Linked DNA regions of Homo sapiens. The gene in region 2 interacts genetically with the main gene of each other region. Each region holds a gene or a part of one and is shown on either strand. Other genes may lie near its edges.

Evidence for each region.
Region 1: changes in NF1 (region 2) and COPG1 together harm fitness more than expected from each alone (negative genetic interaction), as found in Homo sapiens cells (one large-scale study listed by BioGRID).
Region 3: changes in NF1 (region 2) and PRKRA together harm fitness more than expected from each alone (negative genetic interaction), as found in Homo sapiens cells (one large-scale study listed by BioGRID).
Region 4: changes in NF1 (region 2) and C20orf173 together harm fitness more than expected from each alone (negative genetic interaction), as found in Homo sapiens cells (one large-scale study listed by BioGRID).

The regions. Positions count from the first base shown.
Region 1 is NC_000003.12:129,259,606-129,263,105, forward strand, and holds part of COPG1 (coatomer subunit gamma-1), read left to right. Parts: intron 1-727; coding exon 728-795; intron 796-1,013; coding exon 1,014-1,202; intron 1,203-3,500. UniProt on the Homo sapiens protein: The coatomer is a cytosolic protein complex that binds to dilysine motifs and reversibly associates with Golgi non-clathrin-coated vesicles, which further mediate biosynthetic protein transport from the ER, via the Golgi up to the trans Golgi network.
Region 2 is NC_000017.11:31,223,977-31,227,476, forward strand, and holds part of NF1 (neurofibromin), read left to right. Parts: intron 1-1,118; coding exon 1,119-1,274; intron 1,275-2,458; coding exon 2,459-2,708; intron 2,709-3,241; coding exon 3,242-3,315; intron 3,316-3,500. UniProt on the Homo sapiens protein: Stimulates the GTPase activity of Ras. NF1 shows greater affinity for Ras GAP, but lower specific activity. May be a regulator of Ras activity.
Region 3 is NC_000002.12:178,434,176-178,437,675, reverse strand, and holds part of PRKRA (interferon-inducible double-stranded RNA-dependent protein kinase activator A), read left to right. Parts: intron 1-1,356; coding exon 1,357-1,531; intron 1,532-3,500. UniProt on the Homo sapiens protein: Activates EIF2AK2/PKR in the absence of double-stranded RNA (dsRNA), leading to phosphorylation of EIF2S1/EFI2-alpha and inhibition of translation and induction of apoptosis.
Region 4 is NC_000020.11:35,526,853-35,530,848, reverse strand, and holds C20orf173 (uncharacterized protein C20orf173 precursor), read left to right. Parts: upstream 1-1,196; 5' UTR 1,197-1,290; intron 1,291-1,408; exon of another isoform or gene 1,409-1,424; 5' UTR 1,425-1,475; coding exon 1,476-1,784; intron 1,785-1,969; coding exon 1,970-2,148; intron 2,149-2,304; coding exon 2,305-2,398; intron 2,399-2,564; coding exon 2,565-2,591; 3' UTR 2,592-2,616; intron 2,617-3,598; coding exon of another isoform or gene 3,599-3,628; 3' UTR 3,629-3,870; downstream 3,871-3,996.

The DNA of each region.
Region 1 (3,500 bases), on a different chromosome or scaffold from region 2:
GAAAAATTTTTTTTGAGTATTAGAGAATAAAAGCCAAGTTATGAAGAAAGGAACATAGATATTCCAGAAAACAGTAGTCATCTTCGCTCCTATGATTGAGTGCCAAATTTAGCTCTGAGCTTCCGGGCAGCCAGGGCAAGGGAGGGATATGGTACCCGAATGGCTCTCATCTAGTTAAAGGAAATAAACCATTTGTTTAAGAGAGGACTTTGTTCTTCAGCACTTGGTGCCAAGGGGGAAGTTCTGTTGGATCCTGTAGACACAGTAGGAGAGAGGAGTGGAATATTACTTCACAGAGGTTAAGGGCTTAGGCTGCAGGTGCAGGCAGTCTTGGAATTTAATCTTGGTTCTGCCACTTACTGGCTGCCAACCTAAAGTTTGTTTGCTTTCCCCTTTGTGCCTCAGTCTCCTTATCTGTAAAGTGGGCTAGTGGTGGCTGCAAGCTATAGAAGTGAGGCATGTCCACTGTATAGCACAGCACCTGGCACACAGCAGATGCCCAGTGAATAACAGCCCTCACTGGAACCCCTGGGTGCTCACAGACATTATGGCCTCTGTCCATGGCTCAGGTGCGCAGGGTGAGGGGAGCTCTGTGTCTTGGGTTGGGATGGGGGTGTCAGCAGGGAAATGAGCTGAGCAGAGGGTTTGAGTCAGAACAGTAGCCCCCGGTTTTCCCAGCTGCCCAGCAGTGAAGGCAACCTGACATGTGGCATCCATCTCCCCACAGTGCTCCAGCTTTTCTGCAGCTCACCCAAGGCTGCTCTCCGCTATGCTGCTGTTCGTACCCTCAATAAGGTAAGAGTCCAGCTTGGGGGTTGGAGGAAGCTGTCTGATCCAACTGGAGGTGTGTCCTAGCCTCTGACCTGGCTGGGAAGGATAATAGCCCTGGTCACAGTTAGTTTCTTCTAGATGGTGAGATGATCTCATCCAAAGGACTTCTGACTGGGCCAAACCATCAAATGTAGTGACAGCATTGGGTTCCTGCCCTCTCTGTCACTGTCCTCCCAAAACAGGTTGCCATGAAGCATCCGTCAGCTGTGACAGCTTGTAATCTGGATCTGGAGAACCTGGTCACAGATTCAAACCGCAGCATTGCCACGCTGGCCATCACCACCCTCCTTAAGACGGGCAGCGAGAGCAGCATCGACCGCCTCATGAAGCAGATCTCCTCCTTCATGTCAGAAATCTCGGATGAATTCAAGGTACCTGCTACCCCCAGGACACCCACGGCCCCCAGAGGAAGGAGCTCTGTCCCTGCTCTCTGTGGCCACAGCCTTCCTGCCAGGACTGACCTGAGGGGCTGGTCAGCCTTGAGGACTCAGAGGAGGCCAGCAGTTTGCTCTGCAGAGACTTGGCCTTCCGAGAAATGTGCGTAGTCCTGCCTCCAGGCCTCCATCCATATCGTCCCCTTGTACTGAAAGAACAGTAGTTTCCAGGCCAGTTAAGGGTTCATTGATTTGTTGTCCAAGTATTTCTTGAGCACTTGCTGTCTGCTATGTAGAGTGACAAAAGGGGAACATAGCAGTGAACAAAGCAGGTGACTGCCCTCCTGGAGCTTCCTTTCTAGGGATGGGAGAGGAACAGTAAACAGGTAAAGAAAGGAGTAGACGAGATCATCTCAGGCATGGGTACTGCAGTCAAGAGTGTAGAAATACAGCAGGGATGATCCTAGGAAGAGCACAGTCTGGGAAGGCCCTTCTGGAGGGTGACATTTGAGCTCAAACCTGAATCAGTGCAAAGAACCAGGAGGAAAGGCAGGAGCAAGTCAAGGAGAGAGAAGGCCAGTGGGTGGAAGAGCTGTGGGGCCAGTGCAGGTGACAAAGTCAGAATAGACAGGGCTCAATCATGTAAGGCCCATGGTCAGGTAAAGAGTTTTAATTGCAAGGAAGACATTGGAAAGGTGTTCTTTTGGGGCAGGAGGAAGGATGTGAATATTTTTTGAGCTTATATTTTGAAATAATTCATAGGAAGTTACAAAGAAATATACTGAGAAGTCCTATGCACCCCTCCATCAACCCTCTCCTACAGTGCCAGCATCCTACACTAGCACAGGACAATGTCAACCAGGAAAGTGACACTGGCATGACCCATAGAGCTCATTCAGATTTCACCAGCTACACAGGCAACTCCTGTGTGTATATATGTGAAGTTCTATGCAAGATGTCATGTGGAGACTTTCAAAATTGCCACCACAGTGAAGACACTCAACTATCCATCTCCACAAGACTCTTGTTACCTCTTCATAGTCAGGCCCATTCCTACCTCTCTATTCCCTAACCCCTGGCAGCCATTAATTTGTTCTCAATTTCTGTAATTCTGTTATTTCACAATTGTTAATTGATAGAACAATGAAGTATGTCACCGGAGAGTTTTAATCAGAGCAAACAATAATATGAATAATATATTGTGGTAAATTCTATAGTGTGGATTATGCAAAGTAGGCAGCAGTCTACTCTGCCTGTGGGTTACAAGAATGCTTTGCAGGCTGAAATGACACAGTGAGATTTGCATATTAGATCCTTCTGGGTCTGGGCACGGTGGCTCATGCTTGTAGTCTCAGTGCTTTGGGAGGCCAAGGAGGGAGGATCACTTGAGGCCTGAATTTTGAGACCAGTCTGGGCAATGTAGCAAGACCTCATCTCTACAAATTTTTTTTTTTTTTTTTGAGTTGGAGTCTCGCTCTGTTGCTCAGGCTGGAGTGCAGTGGTGTGACCTCAGCTCACTGCAAGCTCCGCCTCCTGGGTTCACGCCATTCTTCTGCCTCAGCCTCCTGAGTAGCTGAGACTAGAGGCACCCGCCACCATGCCCAGCTAATTTTTTGTATTTTTTAGTAGAGACGGTGTTTCACCATGTTAGCCAGGATGGTCTCGATCTCCTGACCTCATGATCAACCCGCCTTGGCCTCCCAAAGTGCTGGGATTACAGACGTGAGCCACCGCACTCGGCCTACAGAAAATTTTTTTAAAAATTAGCCATGTGTGGTGATGCGCACCTGTAGTCCCAGCTACTCTGGAGGCTGAGGTGTGAGGATCACTTGAACCCAGGAGTTCGAGGCTGCAGTGAGCCATGATCATGCCACTGCACTCCAGCCTGGGTGACAGAGTGAGACCTTGTCTGAAAAAAAAAAAAATTGGCTGGGCGCGGTGGCTTATGCCTGTAATCACAGCACTTGGGAGGCTGAGGTCGGCAGATCACTTGAGATCAGCAGTTTGAGATCAGCCTGGCCAACATGGTGAAACCCTGTCTCTACTAAAAAAATTAAAAAATTAGCTGGTGTAGTGGCTCACACCTGTAGTCCCAGCCACTCCGGAGGCTGAGGTAGGAGAGTCGCTTGACCTGGCCTGGAGGTGGAGGTTGCAGTAAGCCGAGATCGTGCCACTGCACTCCAGACAGAGCGAGACTCCGTCTCAAAAAAAAAAAAAAAAAAAAAGAGTCCTTCTGGAGCAGAGTGGAGGGGTGACTGGGTAAAGAGACTGTTGGAGTAATTCAGAAGGAGAGGA
Region 2 (3,500 bases):
TGGGAGTACTTGATTTAATGGGTTTTTGTCCAGTTCTAGAATCATAGCTCTGAGAAATCGTAAAGACCTAGATCTCATGGCTAGACTAGTCCAGAGAATTATCTATCAAGAAGCAAAAGGGAAACAGTTGAGGGTCCTCAATCTAGATTTATTTCGATTCCTCCAATAAGGGTTTCACCTCTTGAAAATATCAGGAGACTTTTTCATTGGGGTGGAGTGAAATGTTTTGATTCTGAACTATTGAAACATGGTGAGGTTGTGGAAGATAGAGAAGAGCCTTAAATTTCTTTTAACATATAGTTTCTGTAATTAATCAATTTAGGAATTCTGTTATGGCCTAGTTTTCGGAGTACTTGATTTAATGAGTTTTTATCTGGTACTAGAAGCATAGCTGTGAAAGACCTTAAATGTATGAAACTCATATCCTTTTCAGTATTTACAGCTTGTTATTAATAAATTGTCTCTTTAGAAATAGACTAATGGTGAAGTGGGTTTATTCACATGTGACTTATTTGATATGTTAATGTAGTGGAATTTGGCATTATTCCAAAGATACAGAAAGAGATTAGACTTCAGACTTTCATGGCCTCGCCTATGGTATAATCTCCAGAATGTGAGTATGAGGAATCCAGTAATGAATTCATAGTGCCCTGGTAGGCATAGTCACTCTTGTGACATACTTGGTGTATATACATACCAGAGTTAATTACTGGTCCAGAAGAACTTAATCTCAAGAGCCAATTTCTGGTTATCCCAACATGGCACAGTATAAAATCTTATGGAAAAAAAATCTTTGTCATTGAGATCAAATTATAGTTTTCATACAGTAGATTTATATTGTTGATGTTTTACTCATGTTTATGTCAGACTTAATTTATATTTGTAGAATCTACTGTTTCTGATGATTTAGAGAATGGGAAACTGAAAGAAATTTTAAAGAATTAAGTAAACCTTGTTTGTTCTAATGGGTTTCTAGTGAATCTCCTTCAAGTTGGGGCATAGAGATTGAGAGGAGAGGTTTTTTAGGAGAGTCTCAAACAGGAAGACAACTCAAATAAGTGTTTATTCCTCTTGGTTGTCAGTGCTTCAGTAAAGCTTATTTATTTATTTTTTTCTAGCAGGCAGATAGAAGTTCCTGTCACTTTCTCCTTTTTTACGGGGTAGGATGTGATATTCCTTCTAGTGGAAATACCAGTCAAATGTCCATGGATCATGAAGAATTACTACGTACTCCTGGAGCCTCTCTCCGGAAGGGAAAAGGGAACTCCTCTATGGTCAGCTTCTTCTGTACTTTTTCTGTATCATTTTATGTGCTCTGTTTGTTTTCTGAATGAAATTTGGTAAATTTCATCTAGGTAATATAGTGTAATAGTGAAAAACTGCTTAGAATCTAGTTCTATTACTGCTCTTTGTGGAACTTTGGGCAAGTTCTTAACATCCTTGTTCCTCAGTTCCTCAACTTTAAAATGGGGACAGTAATAGTTCCTGCCCCAGAGTTGTTAAAGAGGGTTAAATAAAAGGATGTGTAAATAGCACTTGACACTTACAAGCTATATCTGATAATTATAATTATTATAAACCTCCACTCCATAAAAAACCCATTCATACCACAGAAGTATAGAATTCGTACCGGCTAACAAAGGTACAGATTTACAGGGATAAAAACAAAGTATTTTGCTTCATGTTAAAGATAAGTGTTTCTGTGATTTGTGTTTGTGTGTATAATTTCTTTTAAATATAAATCATATTTCAAGTGAAAATATCACATCATTACAGAAGAGTTTATTTTCCAAACCAAAACTTTTTTCATTCCTAATTTTTAATGCAACCTTGTTAAGGAAGAAACACCTAAGCAGTATGATATTTACTAATGTCTGTTTTACTTGTAGAATTTGCATTTATTTTATCAATTATTTTCTCCATTTCGTGTTTGGAGAATAAGTAATTCAGAATCAAATGTATCTTCTACAGCAATATTTAGTTCTTGTTTATGCCCTTGTTTCAATGAGTGCTGCAGTGTACTTATTTTATTACTTCCCTATAGCAAGTAGATAGAATTTCCTGTTACTTCCTCTTTTTTTGTCATTTCTAATTGACTGGGAGGTACATTATATTGTTACTGCAGTAGATTTACGTTATGGTGTTTACCTGTCCATGTTAGAATCAGTTTACATTTCTGGAATCTGGAATAGGATAATATCTATTTGATTTGAAATTGAACAGATGGTAGCATTATGTTGGTCCAGATAATCTCATTTCTCATTTGGACAAGATATTTTGGGGTTTGAAAAATTCCTATAATGATTAAAGGAAAAAGCTCTTGTGAGTTATTGTATGCGGAGACACACACACACACACACACACACACACACACACACACACAGTTTATTGCATTGTTAGATTTTATACATAAAATTACCCAAGTTGCAAATATATGTCTTCCACCCTTGACTCTCAGGATAGTGCAGCAGGATGCAGCGGAACCCCCCCGATTTGCCGACAAGCCCAGACCAAACTAGAAGTGGCCCTGTACATGTTTCTGTGGAACCCTGACACTGAAGCTGTTCTGGTTGCCATGTCCTGTTTCCGCCACCTCTGTGAGGAAGCAGATATCCGGTGTGGGGTGGATGAAGTGTCAGTGCATAACCTCTTGCCCAACTATAACACATTCATGGAGTTTGCCTCTGTCAGCAATATGATGTCAACAGGTAAATGTGAATAGTGGTTTTTTTTACTCAGTCTGCCTCAAAGCACATGGCATCTGATTTTGAGAATGTATTTAAGGTCACTACTTTGTAAGTTTACAGGGGAAATTCAAGTAGCTTACTTGAAATCCTTTTCTGAACAAAGTAAGATGAAAATAAAAAGCATTTGAAATAAATTGTTAGTCTTCCACTGAGTTGTTAATATGCTATACATTTTAAAAATAACTGGCAGTAGATGTTACTATCAGTTATGATTATGTAATTTACTCTGCCTAAGTTGTAGATAGTGAAGTTTTACAAACATTGGCGTATGTTTTGAGTAAATTGTAGGTGGGAATAGCTATTTTATTCTGTGGACATTGTAGAGTCCAAGATAAGTACCTTTCCTGTGAGGTTAGTGAAAGGAAGTTTTTGGCTTTATCATTTGAAGCATTTGCTCTGCTCTTCCTACTCCTTTTGGGTGGAGCTTATCAGGTTCTCCATTGGCAGGCAGGGCTCTAAGTGCAGTAACTTGATTTGCTGTTGTATTTGCTTAGGAAGAGCAGCACTTCAGAAAAGAGTGATGGCACTGCTGAGGCGCATTGAGCATCCCACTGCAGGAAACACTGAGGTATGCCCTTAGCAACAGAAACACCCCTCCCAGGCGCCCACCCTCAATTTGGAAGCCTCTTGTTACATATGTGTGATCAGGAATAGCTTTTGAAGTAAATCCAAGATACGTGCATATTACAAGTATAATATCTGAGTATTTAATATACATCAAGTTTGAAACTTGGCTGTAGCTGATTGATGTTT
Region 3 (3,500 bases), on a different chromosome or scaffold from region 2:
GGTAGGAGTATAAATTGGTTCAGAAATCAGTTTGGAAGTATTTATCAAAATTAAAAGTGTACATGTTCTTTGACTTAGCAGTTCCACTTCTAGAAATAATTCTACAGAGAAACTCATTCAAGTGCAAAAGAGTGTTTATTGCTAGTAAAAGCAAGAAACTAGAAACAACCTAAAGCTCACAGTTGGAGATCCGTAAGGTAAATACAGTGCATATATGTGCACTGATAAAAGAAAAATGAACAAGATGTAGAGGAGTAAGTTATCATTTGCTTTAAAAGATTGTGTGTGCTTGCATATGCATAGAACATTTATGGGAAGATACTGAAAAATGTTTAACAGTATGTCTAAGAAATAGAACAGAGGTCTTCAGGGAATGGGTGGTAAGGAAAAGAGACTGTACTCTTCATTATATATTTGTTCTTAGTGCATGTATATTTTTAACCATGTAAATAGTGTTCTTTATTTAAAAACAGTATTTTAAAGTTTCTATAATGTAAATTTTTATTTGGTAAATCTAATAAATTACTTAATTCCATATCATGCCATCTCTAAAATCTTTTGGAAATTGCCTCCCCTCTGTCGTGCTCATTAATAAAACAATATTAAGAGTAGTAACCCTACTTACTTCAGAAAGTAGTTGTTTTTATTAATGGCATATGAAAGCAATTTGAGAACCATAAACTAATATGGAAATATAAGGCATTCTAAGGACAGAGATGAAAAGGGAAGGATATAGGGGAGGATAAAGGAAAGAGGAAAAGCAGAAAGAAAAAGGAAAAAAATACTCAGTTGGGTTCTGGGATAGAAGTCTGATAAGAACTTTTTGACATCCTGTCATTTATTTGAATGACTTGTTCCTCAAACCCAACGCGCACATTTCATGTTTTTTTTAGTTTTTTTTTCTGTTTTTTTTCCTGTTTGATAGCTGTCAGTTATAGTGATTGGTATTTAATACAAAAAAAACCAAAGATATGAAAATTGTTCTATATTTTAATCTGCAAATTGCTCCATTAGGCAGATTTAATTATTTGTGGATTTACTTATGGTGCTTCCAGATATCTTGTACCTCTTAATGTGACCATCAGAAAACTTGACTGAGAAACATTTGTACTATACAAAATACAAAATGCTTTCAGTATATTATTGCAAGTGCTTCTTAAAAACATATAGTATTGTTAAATGTGTACTTTTTAATGTTGTCTTGTTTAAATTGGAAAATTAACCAAATGTTATCCATTTAAACATGCTTTATAACATATTAAATGTGAGTGCTTAATAAGTACTTTTAATGATACTGGTACGGGTGTTGGAACCCAGTCCTAGTCAAGAGTCTAAATCTTCATCTCTGTTTTTCAGACAAATGTAGTAGGACATTCTTTAGGATGTACTTGGCATTCCTTGAGGAATTCTCCTGGTGAAAAGATCAACTTACTGAAAAGAAGCCTCCTTAGTATTCCAAATACAGATTACATCCAGCTGCTTAGTGAAATTGCCAAGGAACAAGGTTTTAATATAACATATTTGGATATAGGTATGATTTTTTTTTCTTTGGCTTTCCCAAGACATGTTTATTTAAAAATGTGTTTGAGGAACAAAAATGTGTTTGAGGAATAAAAATTTCTATTACAATTTATTTTATTGATCAGGGATTCTAAGTATATATAATTACTAGGCCAGTAATATATATAATTGATATGTCCCATTCTTGTGGATAGTAATAATAGCTAACATCTATACAGTTATAACAAAAACAACAATAGCAAAGATAGAGTTTTACTGTGTGCCAGACACTGTTCTAAGATTACACGTATCTACTTACTGAATCCTCAGACTAACTCTATGAAGCAAATTCTGTTATCCTTATTTATAAGTAAAGGAAGAAAGGCACAGAAAGGTTGAGAAACTTGCCCAAGATCACATAGCTAGTCAGCGGTAGAGCAAGATTTGGGGAAGAGTCCCAGAAGATACCCTGGCTGTTAAACTAGCCCTGCTGGGCAAATGAAAAGGCACCTACATTTCTAGCACAAGTACAAGTTTGTGGTGCCCAGACCTTTTCTCTCTACTTTGTCACTGTATGCTGATTCTGGGAGGTAAATGGAACCAAGTCAATTTATAGTTTTATCCCATCTCAGCCATCATCATCTGTATTTTCTCTAGCCCTTAATCATTTGGATAGACAAATATGGACAGATGGGAAAGCAAGTCAGTATGGATTTTCTTTTAATTCAATTTATAGAGCTAATTAGTTGTGTGTGTTTGGTGTCTTGATTTTTTTTTTTTTTTTTTTTTTTTGAGACGGAGTATTGTTTCTGTTGCCCAGGCTGGAGTACAGTGGCACAATCTCAACTCACTGCAACCTCTGCCTCCTGGGTTCAAGCGATCCTCCTGCTTCAGTCTCCCAAGAAGCTGGGAATACAGGCATCCACCACCAAGCCTGGCTAATTTTTTTTTTTTTCCCCAAGATGGAGTCTTGATCTGTTGCCCTGGTTGGAGTGCGGTGGCATGATCTCAGCTCACTGTAACCTCTGCCTCCCAGGTTCAAGCAATTCTCCTGCCTCAGCCTCCTGAGTAGCTGGGACTACTGCTGTGTGCCACCACACCCACCTAATTTTTGCATTTTTAGTAGAGACGGGGTTTCACCATGTTGGCCAGGCTGGTCTCAAACTCCTGACCTCATGATCCACCCACCTCGGCCTCCCAAAGTTTTTTTTTTTTTAGTAGAGATGGGAGTTTCACCATGTTGACCAGGCTTGTCTCAAACTCCTGACCTCAAGTGATCTGTACACCTCAGCCTCCCAAAGTGCTGGGATTACAGGTGTGAGCCACCGTGCCTGGCCAAAGTATCTTGATTTAACATGTGTGAGAAATTTTATATCCCTATCCAACCACAGAAAGATGTGGGGACCTTGCTTGTCAGGGTCCCCTGACCCTGGGAAAGTAGGGCACTTAGGGGCTCAAAGAACTCCTGATATTCTGTGCTACTTTGGGATTGAAGGACGGGTGAAGTGCATTGTCTCAGTAAACCAATAATGATGCAGAACCTGGGAAGTCAGTGCAGACAGATGGTTAGAAAAGGTGGCTGATGAAAAATTAGCTGGGTGTGGTGGCACATGCCTGTAGTCCAGTCTACTAGGGAGGCTGAGGTGGGGACAATGACTTGAGCCTCTGAGGTTGAGGCAGCAGTGAGCCATGATCATGCCGCTGCTCTCCAGCCTGGGTGACAGAGTTAGACTTGTCTCAAAAAAAAAAAAGAAAAGAGGCTGGAGGCCAGGTGCGGTGGCTCACACCTGTAATCCCAGCACTTTGGGAGGCCAAGTCGGGCAGATCACCTGAGGTCAGGCGTTTGAGACCAGCCTGACCAACACGGTGAAACCCTGTCTCTACTAAAAATACAAAAATTAGCCAGACAAGGTGGCGTGCACCTGTAATCCCAGCTACTCGGGAGGCTCAGGTGGGAGAATCACTTGAACCCGGGAGGCAGAGGTTGCAGTGAACCGAGA
Region 4 (3,996 bases), on a different chromosome or scaffold from region 2:
GAGGCAGAAGTTGCAGTGAGCTGAGATTGCGCCACTGCACTCCAGCCTGGGTGACAGAGCAAGACTCTGTCTCAAACAAAACAAAAGAGACAGAGAAGTTTTGGGAAGGGTTGGTTTACAGGGAAAATCCTGGGTTCAGTCTCAGGCTTATTCAGGTGAGATGTCTCTGAGCCATCTAAGTGGCAATTCAGTAGGCTGTTGGATATGGGGTCTAGAGACTACAAGAGAGGATTGAGTTGATGTCACACAACTCCAGAGAGGGCATCACACACAAGTATATTTAAAGTTCCAGGCTGGGGCGGGGTGCAGTGGCTCATGCCTGTAATCCCAACACTTTGGGAGGCCAAGGCGGGCGGATCACCTGAGGTCAGAAGTTCGAGATCAGTCTGACCAACATGGGGAAACCCCGTCTCTACTAAAAATACAAAAAAATTAGCCAGGCGTGGTGGCGGGCACCTGTAATCCCAGCTACTTGGGAAACCGAGGCAAGAGAATCACTTAAACCCGGGAGGTAGAGGGTGCAGTGAGCCGAGATCGTGCCTCTGCACTCCAGCTGGGGCGACAAGAGTGAAACTCCGTCTCAAAATAATAATAATAATAATAATAATAATAATAATAATAATAATAATTTAAAAATAAAGTTCCCGGCTGGGCATGGTGGTTCACGCCTGTAATTCCAGCACTTTGGGAGGCTGAGGTGGGCGGATCACTTGAGGTCAGGAGTTTGAGACCAGCCTGGCCAATATGGCGAAACCCTGTCTCCACTAAAAATATAAAAATTAGCCAGGCGTGGTGGCGCATGCCTGTAGTCCCAGCTACTTGGGAGGCTGAGGCATGAGAATCGCTTGAACCAGGCAGGCGGAAGTTGCAGTGAGCCAAGATCATGCCACTGCACTCCAGCCTGGACAACAGAGCAAAAACTCCATCTCAAAAAAAAAAAAAAAAGTTCCCTCTCAACCCCTGTTTATTTATCCCATAAATATTTATTAAATGATTCTAAGTCTTAGAGCTGCAGAGGTGAAGAAGAGAGACTAGGTCAGCCCCTGTCCTCATGAATCTTACATCCAGTGGAGGTCATTTCGGTGTCAGAGAAAGGGTAGGGTGGTGGCTTTTTTCAGGCAGGCTAAAGGAGGGAGGTCACAATGTGTACTTTGTGATGAGATCTATGATATAACTGGGATGACAGCAAGGCCCCCACTGAGGTATTCCTTCCCCTCTCAGGACTAGCCACATGCTGTCTCTCTGCCCTGGCCTCTTCCACCCCATGCCCAGTCAGAGACCGTTTTGAGGGTGAGCAAATGGATAGTGAGGCAGGAGAGGAGGGGTTGGAAGGAGGTGGAAGGTGGTGGGATGGGGAGTTGTGGAGGCCGACAGGACAGAGGGAAGCTGGTGCTGTCTGTGGCCTCAGCCCCTCATCCTTACAGGTAGAGAAGCCAGTCTACGGCCCACCACGGGAGCCACCGCCTGGGCCAGACATGAAGCGCTGGCAGATTTTTGTCCTGTGGGTCTTTTGGGTGCTCATCCTCTGGCTGATGACCCCCTATCTGGATCTGACACCTGAATCAGCACCCCAGGAAAAACGAATGTACTTGGTACCACAGCATTGCGACTGCCCTTGGTTCAGTTCCGGGAAGTGTGGCTGCCCTTCTGAGACCCTCAACTGCTCCTCCTGCCACCACACAGCCGACGAATGGAACTGGCTTGATGCGTGCTCCAGGAAGACTATGGGGTACCTGATGAGGACAAGAGAGTCTATGACCTCTGACACTGTGCTCTGGTGGTTGGTCAGTGGTCAACACTGGGCCCGGCCATATCCCCCATGCTTTCCGGGCCTCACCCATCTCCCACTTTCCGCCCAAATCCCTGCCCTTGGCCCTGTCTTCACAGCCTCTGGATGGAGATCTCACCCACCCAGCTCTGTTTTCTCTCCCCTGGGCCCAGCCCCCAATCTCCCTCTTGCTGTTTCCAGGGCATGAACTCAGGGAGCGAGCTTGGGAAATTGTGGAGGAAGCTGTTTAAAGGGATTCCCAGGCTCTCGGTGAGCCATTTTGATTTCTATTGTGGGACTTGTGTGCTGTTGGGGCGCCCACAGATCCCGCAGGGCTCCAGCCTTGGCAACGACATCGACCAATACCCCGTGGTTTTCAGGTGGGTGCTGGGGAGAGGGCGGGAGCAGGAAGGCCAGGCCTGCCCCACAGTTCCATCAGTTTCTGCTCCCCTTCCCAAGATGAAGCAGGCCCCAAGTCCAGGGCTTTGAGATGGACGTGGGGAACCAAACCACACACAATGCTTCATCTATCCCAGGAATGCCAGCGACCAGGGCTCCTGGATGCAGCTGGAGATGCTACTGCGGAAGCTCTCTGACCTGGTGTGGACTTCAGATGCTCTAAGTGATAAGGTGATGGAGGTGTCCCCAGACATTCTCTGTGTGGGGGTGAGGGGAGGTCACTGCAGGGAGTAACAGCAGGGGCTCTGGGAAGACCTTCTATTGGCTTACTGGGGACACTTGCAGGACTTTCCCAGGTCTTGTGGCCCAAACTCCCCCACCTCCAATTCTTTCTCAGATTTTGGAAGATGGTCTGGTTCCCTAGTGGAGTGGAAGATAGCAAAGACACGGTGAGGGGGAATAGGAAAAGGGGTAGGATGTGGCTGTGGGTTGCTGTGGGAAGGGCCCCAGGTCAGTTCCCTCCCCCTTCCTCCCCAGGTGCAACCAGGACAACTGGCTGTCTTACCAGGGTCAGGGTCATCCCTGGGGCCCAAGGCTTTGTTCTGTGTCTTGCACAACTGTGCCCCGGCAGGAAAGATTCTTGTATCTTCTTCTCTTAAAATTCCTGCTCCTCAATGCCTTCAGCATGGAGTCTAAAGTTTTCTGCCTGGCTTTCAAGACTCTACATGTAGGCCAAGCGTGGTGGCTCATGCCTGTATCCCAACACTTTGGGAGGCTGAGGCGGGTGGATCATGAGGTCAGGAGTTCGAGACCAGCCTGGCCAATATGGTCAAACTCCATCTCTACTAAAAATACAAAAAATAGCCAGGCATGGTGGTAGCCTCATCTCTACTAAAAATGCAAAAAATAGCCAGGCATGCCTGTAGTCCCAGCTACTCGGGAGGCTGAGGTAGAAGAATCGCTTGAACCCGGGAGGCAGAGGTTGCAGTTAGCCGAGATTGCGCCACTGCACTCCAGCCTGGTGACAGAGCGAGACTCCATCTCAGAAAAAAAAAAGACTATACATGTTCTGACTCCTCCCCTTGCCTCCTGTCTCCCAGGCTCCCATAATGGGCTCTTAGAATTCCCCAGACACATGAGCTGCCTCATGCCTTCTCTCGCACCATTCCGTTTGCCTGGAATGCCCTTCTCTTACGTCCTGGGGGTTCCCCTCTCTTCCTCCAATACCATGAGGAAAAGTGAGTTGACATTCTCTTTTTTGGGATCCTCAGTGACTCTAGGAGAGTGTCCAGAGTCTGTTTCCTGGAGGTGAGCTCCAGTCTCCTCCCAGCTCCCAGGGACAACCTGTCATCCTAGATGCTGAGTGAAGGGAGGCAGGGGTGAGGACAGGAGTCTGCCTGCTGACGCACATGTCCCTCTCTTATCCACTAGGTCACCCTCTTTGGATTTGGATCAGAATAGCAAGGAAAGTGTTTCTATCACTGGAAGGAGGATAATCAGACCAAGGGCTCCAAGGAAATACTGCCCACGTCTAGTGCAGGAGCAGAAATCGAAGTCATCCATCAGCTAGCGTGTGGACAAGCTCACTATTCACACAAGCTCAGCCTAGCTGAGTCCATACAAATCCTATTTCTGGGTGGGTAAAGGGCAGGAGGAAATTGTAAGATCAGTCTGGTACTGAATAAAATCCTGGCCTGATTGTCTTACCTGTAACCACAGTGTCTGGGAGGGATGGGCCAGAGGTGCCTTCCAGATCTCAGGGGCAATATTTGAGTTGATTTCTTTGCCTAGTGCCCTGGATCATGTAGGAGGTATAAGTTTAGATTCAA